4 linked regions of the Homo sapiens genome follow. The protein of the gene in region 2 purifies or fractionates together with the protein of the main gene of each other region. This does not show direct contact. Each region holds a gene or a part of one and is shown on either strand. Other genes may lie near its edges.

The links.
Region 1: the proteins of TNFSF8 (region 2) and GATB purify together in Homo sapiens (affinity purification with mass spectrometry; 2 studies listed by BioGRID and IntAct, with this or other methods). This does not show direct contact.
Region 3: the proteins of TNFSF8 (region 2) and DCBLD1 purify together in Homo sapiens (co-immunoprecipitation; 3 studies listed by BioGRID and IntAct, with this or other methods). This does not show direct contact.
Region 4: the proteins of TNFSF8 (region 2) and ITM2C purify together in Homo sapiens (co-immunoprecipitation; 2 studies listed by BioGRID and IntAct, with this or other methods). This does not show direct contact.

What each region holds. Positions count from the first base shown.
Region 1 is NC_000004.12:151,701,915-151,705,526, reverse strand, and holds part of GATB (glutamyl-tRNA(Gln) amidotransferase subunit B, mitochondrial isoform 1 precursor), read left to right. Parts: intron 1-257; coding exon 258-342; intron 343-1,631; coding exon 1,632-1,676; intron 1,677-3,612. UniProt on the Homo sapiens protein: Allows the formation of correctly charged Gln-tRNA(Gln) through the transamidation of misacylated Glu-tRNA(Gln) in the mitochondria. The reaction takes place in the presence of glutamine and ATP through an activated gamma-phospho-Glu-tRNA(Gln).
Region 2 is NC_000009.12:114,917,054-114,920,665, forward strand, and holds part of TNFSF8 (tumor necrosis factor ligand superfamily member 8), read right to left. Parts: intron 1,086-3,612; coding exon 1,043-1,085; intron 1-1,042.
Region 3 is NC_000006.12:117,541,655-117,545,266, reverse strand, and holds part of DCBLD1 (discoidin, CUB and LCCL domain-containing protein 1 isoform 1 precursor), read right to left. Parts: intron 2,144-3,612; coding exon 2,056-2,143; intron 740-2,055; coding exon 690-739; intron 1-689.
Region 4 is NC_000002.12:230,871,423-230,875,034, forward strand, and holds part of ITM2C (integral membrane protein 2C), read left to right. Parts: intron 1-1,994; coding exon 1,995-2,135; intron 2,136-3,612. UniProt on the Homo sapiens protein: Negative regulator of amyloid-beta peptide production. May inhibit the processing of APP by blocking its access to alpha- and beta-secretase.

The DNA of each region.
Region 1 (3,612 bases), on a different chromosome or scaffold from region 2:
TGGGGTTGCTTAATCTCTCTGAACCTGAATTGTCTCAACACGGAGTGAGCCTGCCTTCCTAAGGCCCTTTCCAACACCAATATTCTACGATGGCAGTGAGAAGGAAATATAGTGTGTAAGGGAAGGATTATTATAAACAATCTTCTTGATTTTTTTTTTTTTTAACTTAGAGATTGAGAAAGGTTGTTTCTAATTATTGCTTGACTGGATGAAAGGTATAATCAAAATATGATGCTAAATTAGTGTGTTTTTCCTAGACTATGAAATTCAGAGGCAAATCAATGAACTTGAGAATGGAGGTGAAATTCTGAACGAAACACGCTCATTTCATCACAAGCTGGGGTGAGTTCGCATTGCTGAGCGTCCTGACCACAGCCGGGGGTGGTGCGAGAGGGCTGGGCTCAGCCACTGACCAGCCATGTGACCTTGAAGGAGGCACGTAGCGTCTCCACTTTTAGGTTTCCTCATTAGTACAATTAGAAAAGTACTGTACCCTTCATGCCTGTAATCCCAGCACTTTGGGAGGCAATGGGCAGATCACGAGGTCGGGAGATCGAGACCATCCTGGCTAACATGGTGAAATCCTGTCTCTACTAAAAAAATACAAAAAATTAGCCGGGCATGGTGATGGGTGCCTGTAGTCCCAGCTATTTGGGAGGCTGAGGCAGGAGAATGGCATGAACCCGGGAGGCGGCGCTTGCAGTGAGCTGAGATGTTGCCACCGCACTCCAGCCTGGGCGACAGAGCGAGACTCCTCTCAAAAACAAAAAAGAAGGCCAGGCGCCGTGGCTCACGCCTGTAATCCCAGCACTTTGGGAGGCCGAGGCGGGCGGATCACGAGGTCAGGAGATCGAGACCATCCTGGCTAACATGGTGAAACCCCGTCTCTACTAAAAATACAAAAAATTAGCCAGGTGTGGTGGCGGGCGCCTGTAGTGCCAGCTACTCGGGAGGCTGAGGCAGGAGAATGGCGTAAACCCAGGAGGCGGAGCTTGCAGTGAGCCGAGATAGTGCCACTGCACTCCAGCCTGGGCGACAGAGCAAGACTCCGTCTCAAAGAAAAAAAAAAAAGAAAAGTACTGTACCCTATAGGGATATAATATACCCTAGGGCTGCCAGGAGGCTTGAAGTGACCCAGACTGTGCCCAAGGGCTTCGTTTTAGGCCCTTTCCTTCTCTGCTTCCAGCTTACCTGCCTTGTGGCAAGAATTTTTACTTCCTTAATCTATCAGATCTTTCCCAGCTGAAGCTAGAGGCGGAACAGAGTGAAGACCTGGTTGTAGAGATGCCTTATTTTTGTTTAGATAACTTGGGCCTTAATTTTCTCACTCAGAATTTTGAGCATTGTATACTTAAAGCAGAATACTGAAAAAAGCTCAAAAGCCGAGTTTGAGCTGGCTGAAAGATGGCTACATTGAAGTCATTTCCTTTAAAAAAAAAAAAAAAAGATCATTCTGTACATTTCGCTTTCTTTATGATTGTTTTTTGAATGTATTCATTTAAGGTTTCCCCATGGAAGTCCACAGAGTTTGATTTTGCCTGTGCCCCTTATTGGTAGGGGAGCCCTTCCCCACATATAGGCTGGCCAGTGCTGCTTTCAATGTTTAATGTTTTCTTATTTAACTATTGCAGGTGCACCATGTCAATGAGAGACAAAGAAGGAAAACAGGACTACAGGTGGTTACTCCTTATGGCAAAATACCGCTATATATCGGGGGCTGGGGCGTATTTCAAGTTCATTTAAAGTTCAACATAATGATCCTGAACAATTTTTAGAAACCACTTTTTGTCATTGTTGTAACATGATGGGACATCTAGACTTCCTCTTTGATATGCATACCGAGAGAAGTACTAGTTTCTTGATTTGGTAGCCTCAGATCTGGTGCCTTGTTTGACTGATTCAGCTTTTGGAAGAACTTGTTCATCCACTGCTGTGTCAAAGTTGTCATAGTTGAGCTAGGAGGATGGCTGTAGAGGTTGGGGCCTAGGCTGTTCTTATTCTAATGTTCAGTAACTGATTCAGTAATACGCTGAATGAAGCTCCTTGAGAAGAAATGAGAAAAGAGATGTTGATAGCGTATGTTGATGGTAGTTCCCTTGAACCTCATATGATGCTATTTCATGATAAATTAAGTTGAACTACTTAATATGAGACCCACAAATAAAGCAAATGCTAAGAACAGGCATAAGATAATTGAAACTTTTATTTTTTTCTCATTGAGTTTAGCAGGTTGAAGTTTTAAGCAACAAAGTTGTGAGATCGGCCACCTTTCCTTTGTGAAGGGCAGAAAGATGCAAATGTAGCTATTATCAATGAGGATCAAAATTTGCATGTTTATGTGGGAAAGAAGAAACTCATAAACGCTTAGCATGAACCTCACCCCAAGAACTCCCATTGTCTGTCTGCTAGAGTCAAAATTATTTTAATTAACCGTGAACTTCCCGGGTGAGTCTGTTCTCCCAGGGGCCCACTTTATTCCTGAGTGTTGCTCCCTCCCCTGTTGGTGCGCCTTCCCCTGAGTGTGGAGTCCGGCTTTCCATCCGCCCGTGGCTTCAGCATGATGCCTCAAATGATAGTGAGCTGCAGGAAGCTTCCCCTGGGTTTCCTCTTGCCCTCAGAAGCCAGACTAACTCACAGAAGAGATCTGGCAGTGAGCCGATGGGTAGCGTGTGCTTCGAATCCATTCCCTCCAAACCACCACTTCTTCTGAATACCCTGCTTTTTCTACATAAGCCCTTTGACAAAAATGGGCAGAGAGTAACCATTAGTGCTGGACGAGAACAGAGGGAGGGACATCTTGTTTCATAAGATTACATGCAATGGTGCAGCTTTGACACTTAAAAAAATTAATTCCCTTCATTTTTTAGAGCAGTTTTAGCTTTACAATAAAATTGAATGGAACGTCCAGAGTTCTCACATACTCCCGCTCCCCACTCTCCCCCCAGAGTCTCCTGTTAATGTGCCACAGTAATGCAAGATGCTCATTTGTTACAATGATGAAACCAATCACACTTCCTTATTGGCTAGAGTCCATGGTTTACACTAGGGTTCCTTGTTTGTGTGGTACATTGCGTGGGTTTTGACATATGCACAATGACATGCATCCACCATCGTGTCACACTGAGAAGTTCCACTGCATGCCCTGTGCTCCACCTCTTCATCCCTCCCTCCCTCTTCTCCAGCTGTCACATTTTGTTTAGGCAAAATCTATTCATTTCTTCTATTTCTCAAGGGTAAATTTTTTTCCTTTCATTTTTTATTTATGTAAATGCTGCTAAAAATAGTAGAAATGTTGAAATGGGGGGAAAGTCATCTTTCCTTCTAATAAGCAAATTGCTCTCATTTGGTCCTGTTTTTTCCAGCCTGTGTCTTTATGAAGACATAGTCCTGCATACATATGGATGTTTCTGTCAACAGTGGATTACGTATGCTACAGGAGTCCCATAAGATTGTCATATGGCATTTTTACCGTCCCTTTCTTGTTCAGACATGCTTAGATACACCAATGCCATTGTGTTACAGTTGCCTGCAGGATTTGGGACACTCAGTAGCCTTGGAGCAGTAGGCTACTCCACATGGCCTATCTGTAGTAGGCTGTACCATCCAGGCTCA
Region 2 (3,612 bases):
GAAGTCTCTGGGTGATAAACCACAGGAAAGGCATGGGCAAGGGAAACTTGAAGGACACTCCAAGTGTGATGCTGTGAGTGTGAGGAGCTGTGTCCAGTCATCTGTGTCCTCTGGTCTCAAGGACACTCTTGTGCCACTACCCTGGTGCCTACATTAACTCACTTCCTTACTTTTTGCTCTGAGCTTTCTGGCTATCCAGCTGTGTTTGCCATCTAGGTTCTAAAGGTTACAGGACTGAGATGGGAGTTGGTGTTCTTGGGCAGAAAAGACACTGTATCAGAGATGAGGACATCTTTCTGGGTTCTAGGCTTGGCTTTGTATGACCTTGGACGAGATACTTCACTTTCCCTCTCTGGGTCTTCCTTTTCCTTCTCTGAGCAATAAAAACATTAATCAGGTCATCTGAAAATTTCTCATCATCGATGTTAACTGAACTCGGCATATCATCTCTCTGAGGCTAGTAGAGACGACGTGTTAATTAGTGACTTCAATGATTGGAAATATAGGAGTGAGGAGGAAGTCTGTTTTCACAAGTCCTTGACTTCATTATGCATTTTAGCTATTACTAGTTATTTAATGATTACTATGTGCTGGTTGCCATGCCAAGCAATTTACAGATGAGATCTGAATGGCTTCTCCAATACCTTGATGAGGTGAGTATTATTATTATTCCCATTTAACAGATGAGGAGTTGAGGCTCCCCAGTGGGAAGTCAAGCCAAGATTCATTCCCCCATTTATCTGATTTCAGGTTTCAAGCATTTAACACAACACTGCCTTGCAGTCCTGCCTATGCCAGAGGTAGAATTTTCATTAGTGGGAGTGTCAAGAGCTGGTGGGAGACTTGTGGGGATGAGTTCAGGAGCTGCTAAGATGAATTCAGGTGCATCAGCTCAGTCCTGAACAGCCCTTGCCTCCACCCCTACCCACTTTACTGTTGGGTCATGTCATAGAGTTGTTTCTGGTTGATAATCAGGTTTCACACTTTATGGCATTTATCTAGATGACTTACTACACATTTACACCTAATTCCAAGATCTTACCTCCTTTGAGGGGGACGTTGTCAGGTGAGTTGGGAATGGAGTCCTGGAAGAAAAGAAAGAAAAAAGCAGCATGAGGTGTGACATTCAGTTGAAACAACTTTTTTTTTTCTTTTTCATTTTGTTGTCCTTAAAGTACTGTGCAATTTACAATTCATCCTCCACCTGAATTTTAAAAATTAATTCACTGATGTAGTTTCCAATGGGCTTTCTATCCATTTGTTTGACAATCTATTAGAAATGCAAGATGAGGATTACTGTCCCCGTTCCACAGGCAAGAGACACGGGGTTGAGTGAGATAAAATGACTTGCCTAGGGCCACATAGTTAATTTATAGAAGATCAGGGACCAGAGCTGGGACTTTTTTTTTTTTTTTAGACAAAGTTTTACTCTGTCACCCATGCTGGAGTGCAGTGGTATGATCATGGGTCACTGCAGCTTCATCCTCCTGAGTTCAAGCGATCCTCTTGCCTCAGCTTCCTGAGTAGCTGGGAGTACAGGTGCACACCACTACACTCAGCTAATTAAAAAAAGGAGTCTTGCTCTGTTGCCAGGCTGGAGTGCAGTGGCACTATCTTGGCTCACTGCAACCTCCGCCTCCCAGTTCAGGTGATTCTCCTGCCTCAGTCTCCAGAGTAGCTGGGACTACAGGCACCCACCACCACACCCAGCTAAGTTTTGTATTTTTAGTAGACACAGGGTTTCACCATATTGGCCAGGTTGGTCTCGAACTCCTGACCTTGTGGTCCACCCGCCTCAGCCTCCCAAAGTGCTGGGATTACAGGTGTGAGCTATCACACTCGGCTAGAGCCAGGACTCAACTCCCAATCTGGTGCTTTTCCCCCCTCCATATGTTTGGGTGTTTTTTTCTTTTTTTTTCCTTCTGGTCAACATGAGAATAATCAAGTATATCATAAAAGTAGATGTGTTTTTTTTTTTTCCATGTTTGATTCATCTGTGAACGTATGTTGTAAACATACCTGGGAAGGTACATCTCTATGTCTCCTGTGGTTGGAAATTCTGAATTAATTGTGTGTTTATATGCCAAGCATTGTGAGGACACCATACATAATTAAATTGGGTCCCCATCCTTATGGATTTATTACAAGTTTATATTTAAATATACAAATATGTATACACATGTAGTATACATACAAATGCATATTATATATTTAAACATTTACATAGTATATTATTTATTCTGTAATAAATATATACATAAATATTTACACAAATAAGAGGTTGATAGAAACAGATTGTCTTTTGAAGGAGGGAATCCTGGGCTGGGGATTGAAGGTGACTAAAGGGAGGTTCTAGTTCAAGGACTCTCAACAAGGAGTTAACAGAAGCAGAGAGGCACAGTTCTTTTCCCCTAATAAATTCTTCAGACACTAAGTTTCACACCCTGATTGTCCCTCCCCTTTCTCTCCAGCCATGGAGACACCCATACAATATTCTGCCAATAAGGAATGAAGTATTTTATTCATCTTTTGACCTGCCCAGGTTGGAATCTCCTGTATTGCATTGAATTAAAATATTAGTAAAGACCTAGAGAGGTGTGAGCGTGTGTATGCGAAAAAACCAACTTCCTAACCTCTACCAAAGCAAGAAATTAGCAGCCGCCCACAGCTTATTTTCTTAGTGTTCTGTATGAACACTAGGACCATCTGGAGTTCCCCTATTATTGTAACATTTCCCTGGGAGGTCTGTCATTTGCCTTCCGCTGAAAGCTTGTTTTCTTATGAATGGATCTCTTCTCTAGTGCAAGAGGTTGGTAGTGAGTCAAGGAGGTCTCCTGAAGGCAAAGCCCTGGCACAGCACCAATCTGGAGATGGGGGAAGTCAGCTTAAACATTTGGGCCCTACCTTCTCAGGGGAAGGGAGGCAAACTTGTCCTGGAAGGCCCTTCCTACTGTAACAGTCTACGACTTTGTTGCCTTAGTTGAAAGCTTTTAACCTAACAAAGCTAAGTTTTTGTAGTCTTTCAGTTATGCATGCAGTTTGCAGGAAAACTTGATATCACAAAATTCCCCTTTATGTTGCCCTTGTGAGACAACACACAACATTTTAAAATTTAATAAACAACTTACAACTTACTGCCAAGCGTGACCATTGATTAGCATGATGTGCAAATGCACTAAGAAAAATATCTGCATTGAAATGTCTTACCACAATCATCAAATTCATCAAGCTGCCCAGGGACATATACAGGGACAGTGAGAGAGGCTAGAATAGCAAACCTGGTACAGCCATCATTGCAGAGGCTGCTAGCAGTTCGGGAAGTCCTAGAGAATCATTCATGCAGCACACCTTGAATGAGCACCTGGTCTGTGGTAGGAACTACGTTAGTCACTAAAAGACATCCTATGGATTTTATGCTTTAGTCATTAAGGCAGCCATTTAAAAAATATAAATAAATGTGTAATTAGAATTGCAGGTTGTGGCAAGAGCTATGGAGGAAAAGAATCATAGTGCTTTAAGGTAGTGCTGTTAGAACTTCAATGTGCATATGAATCACCTGGGAGTCTCGTTAAAATGCAAATTCTGATTCTGCAGATTTGGGGGGAGTTTAAC
Region 3 (3,612 bases), on a different chromosome or scaffold from region 2:
TAAAAGGTATTTTGCCCTCATCAGGTCCCAGATTCTCCCTTTGTGAGATCATCTGGGTATGGTCTCCGACAATCTGCACTGGCATGGCATCTGTGAGGCAGAGGAGACACTGCAGCTGGTGTTTAGACCCTGGGGAGGTGGAGTCTCAAATGGTCCCTGAGCTTTCTCAGGGGTCCTGCCCCACTGCCCTCTCTCTCTGGACCATGGCTAACTCATTGCTTGGGCACCTGTGTCTGGGAAAGTGAGAAAAAGACCAGACGGGGCTGGTGTGCAGGATTATCTGAAACCTGCACACCAGCCCTGCCTGGTCTTTTTCTCACTTTCTCAGGGTGGAAAGTACAGCACAGGCCTGCAGATGCTAACAACACGGGCCTACTTCAGTTCACTGATAAGGCTTTTGTCATACCTCCTTGATGGCAGACAGTGTCGTGGCCTAAACTCCAGTGGCCAAGAAAAAAGGATGTTGACAAATGATAGGGGATGACATTGAACAAAAGTAAAGTGGCCATTAAAATAAAGAGACAGAACACAATAAATTTCTTCCTTATAGATATGCTACTTTAAAGGCTACAGGGCTTATGTCTTTTAACCAAATAAATGTGGGCCACTGGCCTCCTTATGCTTTCAATCAGCAGATCCTGTCCCTTCCTCAAAGACAGATAAAATTGTAGATAGAGTTTTCAACCAACCTGTTTTCTGAGCCTCTGCTGATCCATACGGACTTCCTTTCTTCTTCTTCCTATCAAGACAAAAAGTCCTACTGAATATTTATAAGCCAATGTATCTGCCTCTCTCTCCCTATATAACATAAGGATCATAATAGTACTTACCTCATAGGGTTGATGTGAGAATTAAATGAGATGGCAGCTGCCATGTGCTTTAGAAAATCATACAAATATGTAGAATTATCTATAAATTTATCTCATTTATAAGAAAGGTCACAAGATTTCACTAGAAGAATATATACTAATCTTATTTTGCATATTAGAAATCAGTGCCTTATTAAGTTTATCACTAGCTCATGCAGTCATCCTGAAGCAATTCCTCATGACCACATGGTCTCACTTCATCTCTACTATACTCCAGTCCAAAACTGTGGGTGTCTTTAGAAGCATTTCATACAAGCACATTACACTAAGGCATGCTTTAACTTATGAATATCTACCTGAACCAGAGACTTTTGTACCTTCTCTCATGATGGCAGAAACTATTCTTCATTCTATTTGTACTAATATACACATTATAGATTCTGAAGTTGCTTAAAATATAAGAAGAGAAAACTTCAGAATACTTTCCATTTTTTGTTTAGATCCAACATCTAACATTTGTCAAAATAAACATGGATCTCAGGGTTCTGGAAGAGATTCAGAATTCATCTGGGTAAACTATATTTTATACATAAGGAAACAGGCTTGGGGAGGCTGAGTTACGGGGCAGCTTGGTGATACCCCAAGCAGCCTATTTAATATTCCTTTTACTCTTCAGGGAGGAGAAGCACAGATACTTCTAAAGCAATATATCAATTTCAGGATACTTCAACAATACTCAAAGGTTAAGTCTTTACCAAAGGTCTCTAAATGACAAGAACTGCTTATAAAGTAATACATGGTGGGGTGCGGTGGCTCATGCCTATAATCCCAGTGCTTTGGGAGGATCAAATGAGACCAGAAGTTTGAGACCAGCCTGGGTGAGAAAGCAAGATCCCATCTCTACAAAACATAAAAAAATTAGCTGGGCATGGTGGCACATGCTTGTAATCCTAACTACTCAGGAGGTTGAGGCAGGGGGTTTGCTTGAGCCCAGGAGTTTGAGCAATCTCACCACTGCACTCCAGCCTGGGAGACACAGGGAGACCCTGTCTATAAAAAAAGATTAATAAAGTAATACTCGATCATTTCTACTTTTATCTAACTTGTTTGTAAAATATAAGTTAACATTTTATTTTGAAAGAAGCCATGCTGCTTTTGTACATATGCATTTCTGAAGAATAAACTTTTTGGTTTTTTATTGTTCGCATAATTAGAGAAGAAATTTAAACATGTAAAGTCACCATACTTTCTAAAGGCTGCAAAGATCCCCATTCCAGCAAACACCAGGACAACAAGGAGCACCAATGGAATAGCCACCGTTGTAATGTTTATTCCTAAAGAAGACGGAAAGCCATCACGTTACAACATAAATGACCAACAACCACTTTTCATGATTTAAAACTGAACATGGAATTGAAAAGTCTTTAAGCATTTAATATAGGGGGAAAATGAATACATGTTAGGCATTTACTGATATTGGAAAGCAAAAAGAAAGGATTCAAAATCCTGGCTAAAGTTTGGGAAAGTAAAATTTCTCCCCCAGCCCCCCAGAGACAGTTTCCAATGTTCCTCAGGGACTAACAGGCACACTGGGCTTGTTGCTTGGCCCATATTAAACTCCAAAAATCTGAAATGAGGGGAGAGTTTAACCCCTCCCCCACCCCTCAGGTGAGAACTATTTAGACAGGTAAATGATTTAAGCACAGTGTGGAGCTCCTACTTTGGCTCAAGCAACACATTTCCCCAGATGGCAGGCGGGTTTGGACCTGTACCATAACAATAGTCTGGAAAACTGGGATCCTCGTTACAGAGCTCTGGGGCTGCGGACTGAGAGGAAGTGCAGCCTGATGACCTAAAACTGCATTTCCACTATGTTGCATGAAACACCACATCATGTTTTCCTGCAACTCTTTCTGCTCTAAAAAAAGGACACTTTGACAGCCACCAAGGCAGGCCCCAAGTTTGTAGAAAATACACAAAGTAAAGGAAAAATATTTGCTCTTCATCTTTCTCTTCTGTGATCCCTGGGAAGAAAATAAAGGGATGCTTAAGAGTGGAAAAATGCAATTCATGAAGAAGGGGAAAAGGGATTTAGATGAAAACCAAATTTGTGTATAAGTAACAGAAGTGTTATTATTACTTCTTTTTCTTTTTTTTTTTTTTTAAGAGATGGAGTCTCGCTCTGTCACCCAGGCTGGAGTGCAGTGGTGTGATCTCGGCTTGGGCAACCTTCGCCTTCTGGGTTCAAGCAATTCTCCTGCCTCAGCCTCCCGAGTAGCTGGGACTACAGGCGCATGCTGCCACGCCCAGCTAATTTTTTGTATTTTATTAGAGACGGGGTTTCACCATGTTGCCCGGGCTGGTCTCGGACTCCTGAGCTCAGGCAATCCGCCCGCCTCGGCCTCCCAAAGTGCTAGGATTACAGGCATGAGCCAATGTGCCCGGTAGCGGTGTTATTTTTAAGAGTGAAAATTTGGGGAAAATCAAATAACTTAAAGCATCCAACAGCAGGGGAATGGTCAAGTAAATAATGGTTTATCCATGTGAAAAAATACTATAAAGACATTAATAATTGGGGTTTTCAACCTTCCAATAACATTGGAAAATGCTCATAATACAATGTTAAATGAAAAATATATGCTACAGAACAGAATAATATGATATGCTACCATTTTTGTCTTAAAGTTAGAAACATAAATATAGTTGACTAGAAACAGTGAGATTTGGTGATTATCTACGGATACTGATTTATGACTAATTTTTGTTTTCTTATTTGTGTTTTTCTAATCTTTCCAAATTCTTA
Region 4 (3,612 bases), on a different chromosome or scaffold from region 2:
CGGGAGTCCATTGGAAAACCAAAGCCATTTAGTCCCAACCCCCTGTGGCCAGCAGCTGTTCCTGAGGGCCCTGTGCACTGTGGCCATGCCCGTCACTTGCTGGTGACCTTGGTTAGTGCCCCTGGCTGCTGAGGAGATGACAGTGGGCAGGTGGTCCATATGATCACGGGACCCCTAAAGCAGGGCAAGGTGGGGAGAGGCCCCGGCCTCCTCATGGGCCAGGCAGTGCGGGCAGTGGTTTGACCTCCCACACCCACCCAGCAGGCTCCCTTGCGGGCAGACTTGAGTGTGAGGGTGCAGGACAGGCAGGGGCACCCCATGGTGAGGATGCTGGGGGCCTGCTGACCTGCTCACGCATGTCCGCAGTGAAGGGGGGGTCCTCCAGACATTTTCTGTCCTTTTCCTAAGCAGGGCGGGTCAGACCCTCAGCTCCCCAGGGCCCAGGCCCCACACTCCCCTGTGCTCTAAAAGGGTGGGAGGTGAAACCTGAGGAGCGAAGCAGGCGCCCCCAGGGCAGGACCCCTGTGCTGTGCTGAGAGATAGGGCCTGTCCTGAGTCACTTAGGCCTGAACCACCCCCCTCCAGGGGGAAGGGAGAAAGGAAATCTGTTCCCATCCCAGAACGCCTGGCCGGAAAGGGCCTGAGAGGTCACTTGGTCTGACCTGCTCATTTTGCAGATGGGGAAGCCGAGGCCCAGAAAGTGCTAAGCAGGCAGGTAGTGGCAGAGCCAGAATGAGAAGCTTCAGGCTCTGGGGCTGGATCCCCTCCTCTCCCCAATACTGCGGCAGTCCGCAGGGACTGACCTCTAACCTCACTCTTGGCCGTATGTGGACACCACGGAGGAAGGATTAAATGGTGAACATTGGAGGCAGAGACTGGCCCCGGGGCTTTTGCATTATCTCCAAGGGTGAGCAAGGGCCCGGGGGAAGGCATAGGAGGTAGGGAGGAGAAGAGACAGGAAATTGACCAAGCTCACCTGGCTGGCTCTCGTCAGTGCTCTGGGTAAAGCAGTTTTGTTGAATTTTATACTCACACACCTACGTCCACCACCCCACACATGTGTGGCCTGGAGATGGGTTAGGTTGGCTTCTTGGCAGCCCTGCAGCTATGATCTTGAGCCCAATTCTGGCTCCCAGAGCAGATTTTTCCAGGATCCTTCTAGCCTGGCCTTCCGGACAGCCACATTTCTCTCCTGGCAGGAGCTCCCTGGTGGATGGAAGCTTCCGGGCTTCATCCTGTAGCTGTTACACCACTTGTAACAGCCTGCTTGACTGCCGGTCGGTGCCTGTGGGGGGCCAGTGTGGATCACAGGCCTAGAGCTCCCTGGCTGGGGACAAGCACCCATGCCCAGACCCCATGGGGCTCCTGGAGCCCCTGCCCCCATCAGTCACAGCCTCCTTGGTGGAGTTGAGCAGCCTTTACACAGCCTGCCCACCTCCTATTGTCCTCATTTTAGTCTACCCTCTGCACCTTGGTTTTAGAGTGGATCTTGTCACTCCCCAGCTCAAAAGCCTTCCCGGGCTCCCCATCGTCCAGAGCAGCAGCTCCCAGCCTGCCTGGTGTGTCTCAATTCCTACAGAGATTTCTAAGTCCCTAAAGTCACCGAGGCCAGGTCGGCACATCCCCTATCTTCTGTTTGAAAGAATATACCACGGTCACGGCTGGTATAAGCAAGAGGCCTAAGAGCTCAGATAACTCAAAATGCACCTGCTGAACCCACTGCATCTCTTTCGGTGGCTTCCAGGTGTGTCTTGGTTTCTCTTTCGAGGTGTGTCTCCTTTTCTCTTTCGAGGTTTGTCTCGGTTTCTCTTTAGCCAGGACGAGTCCGGGTGACCCTGGTGGGCCTTCCTTTCCCTTCTAGGTGTCATCTCCTTCCCTCCCTTTCCCCCAAGACTCCCTCCGGGCCCAGCCAGCAGGTGAAGCCTGACTTAGGGAAGGGGGGATTTCCAGGGGAGGGGCCCTGGCCCCCACTGACCCAGCATTGCTATCCACAGGAGGAGCAGCCCCCACAACATCGATCCAAGAGGGGGGGCTCAGTGGGCGGCGTGTGCTACCTGTCGATGGGCATGGTCGTGCTGCTCATGGGCCTCGTGTTCGCCTCTGTCTACATCTACAGATACTTCTTCCTTGCGCAGGTGAGGGGCCGGGCCAGGTAGGGGCAAGGCCTCGAGAAAGGGTCATGTCTAGAGAGGCATGGAGGGAAGTGTCTGCAAGGGGGCAGCAGGAAGCCCCAGACATGCCCTCAGGTGGGAGCGAGTGCCCGGCCAGCCCACAAGACTGGGGTGCCCCCTCCTCCTTGGGGCCTCCTTGGATGCAGGCCAGTCCCACATTTAGCCCCTTGTCCTGGGGAGCCAAGCATGAATCCGGGTGACAGCACTGGGCCCGCCCCACAGGGTCACCCTGGGGAATTCTCACCAGAAACTCAGATCTGGCAGAAACTGGAACTGTGATCCCCCTCCACAGCTCAGACCCTGCACCTGCAGGTCACGCTTTAAGGCTGACCTAACTGTGCTTGTGCATGGACATTTGGGTTACCAAACAAGAGAGGGAGAGGGGTGGGTACAGAGAGTCTCCACCACCTCCTTCCAGAAGCAGGAGTGTGTCCTTGCTGCCAACTATCATCCCCCTCCCCGGGGGACCTGGGCACAAAGCTGGGCCAACCCAGACCTGGGAGGGAGGGAGTGTCGCTGTGTGCTTGGAAATGAAAGTAGGTAAATTAAAAGGATAAACCTACGTACAACTCACAGAGAACCTCAGGGTGACAAAGAGGTGGGACTTGCCAGTCATTTATGACCCAAGTGACCTCCCACTCCTAAGCGTTTAACTTTGTTGTCCCCCAGTTTTTCCACGATGGAAATTGCTGAAGAGTTTGCATTCACGGGGCTTTCCCCTTGAAAGCTCAGCTCACATACACCCATCACCTTCCTTTCTGTGCAGCATCCCCCTGCCCCGCCCCACTCCCTCCATGGCCTGCGTCCCCCTCGTTCCAGGGTCCTGTGTGGGACCTTCCCACAGGCCTCTTCCTGTTGTGGCCCTACCCTAGGACCTGGGCCAGCATTTCCTGGTCCCCTCTGTTCCACCCTCGACTCACACCCTTCTCCCCACACCCCAATTCGTTGTGTGGACACCTCCCAGCAGCCCCTGGGTCTGTGCCCTGGGACAGTATTCGGGGTGTCCAGCCACTGTGGGATGCAGCCCCGGAGCCTCACCTTCCCTGGGCTCTCATCCCCGCACAGCCCACAGGAGCCCCCCATGCTGCGATGACGCATCCTCCCTGGAGAACTTGCACTGAATCAAACAGACGGTGGAATCCTGCCGATCCCAGGCCAGGCAGTCCCAAGCATGTATCTACAGGCCCCTCCAGGAGCCCCCTCCAGAAGTAAGAGTGGGCAGACTGGCCCGCCCGGCCATTCAGTTGATGGGATCACACCAGGCTGCCTGGCCTCCCTTACTGATGGAGTGACTGGACTGGCCCACCAGACACAGTGTCTGTCAAGGTTTCTCCAAGACAGGGGTCAGGGATATCCAGGAAGGGCGATGGCACTTGTCCGAGGCTGGATGTGGAGGTAACCGTGATAGGGGCACAAGACTCTTAACAGTGTTGCCTCCAGC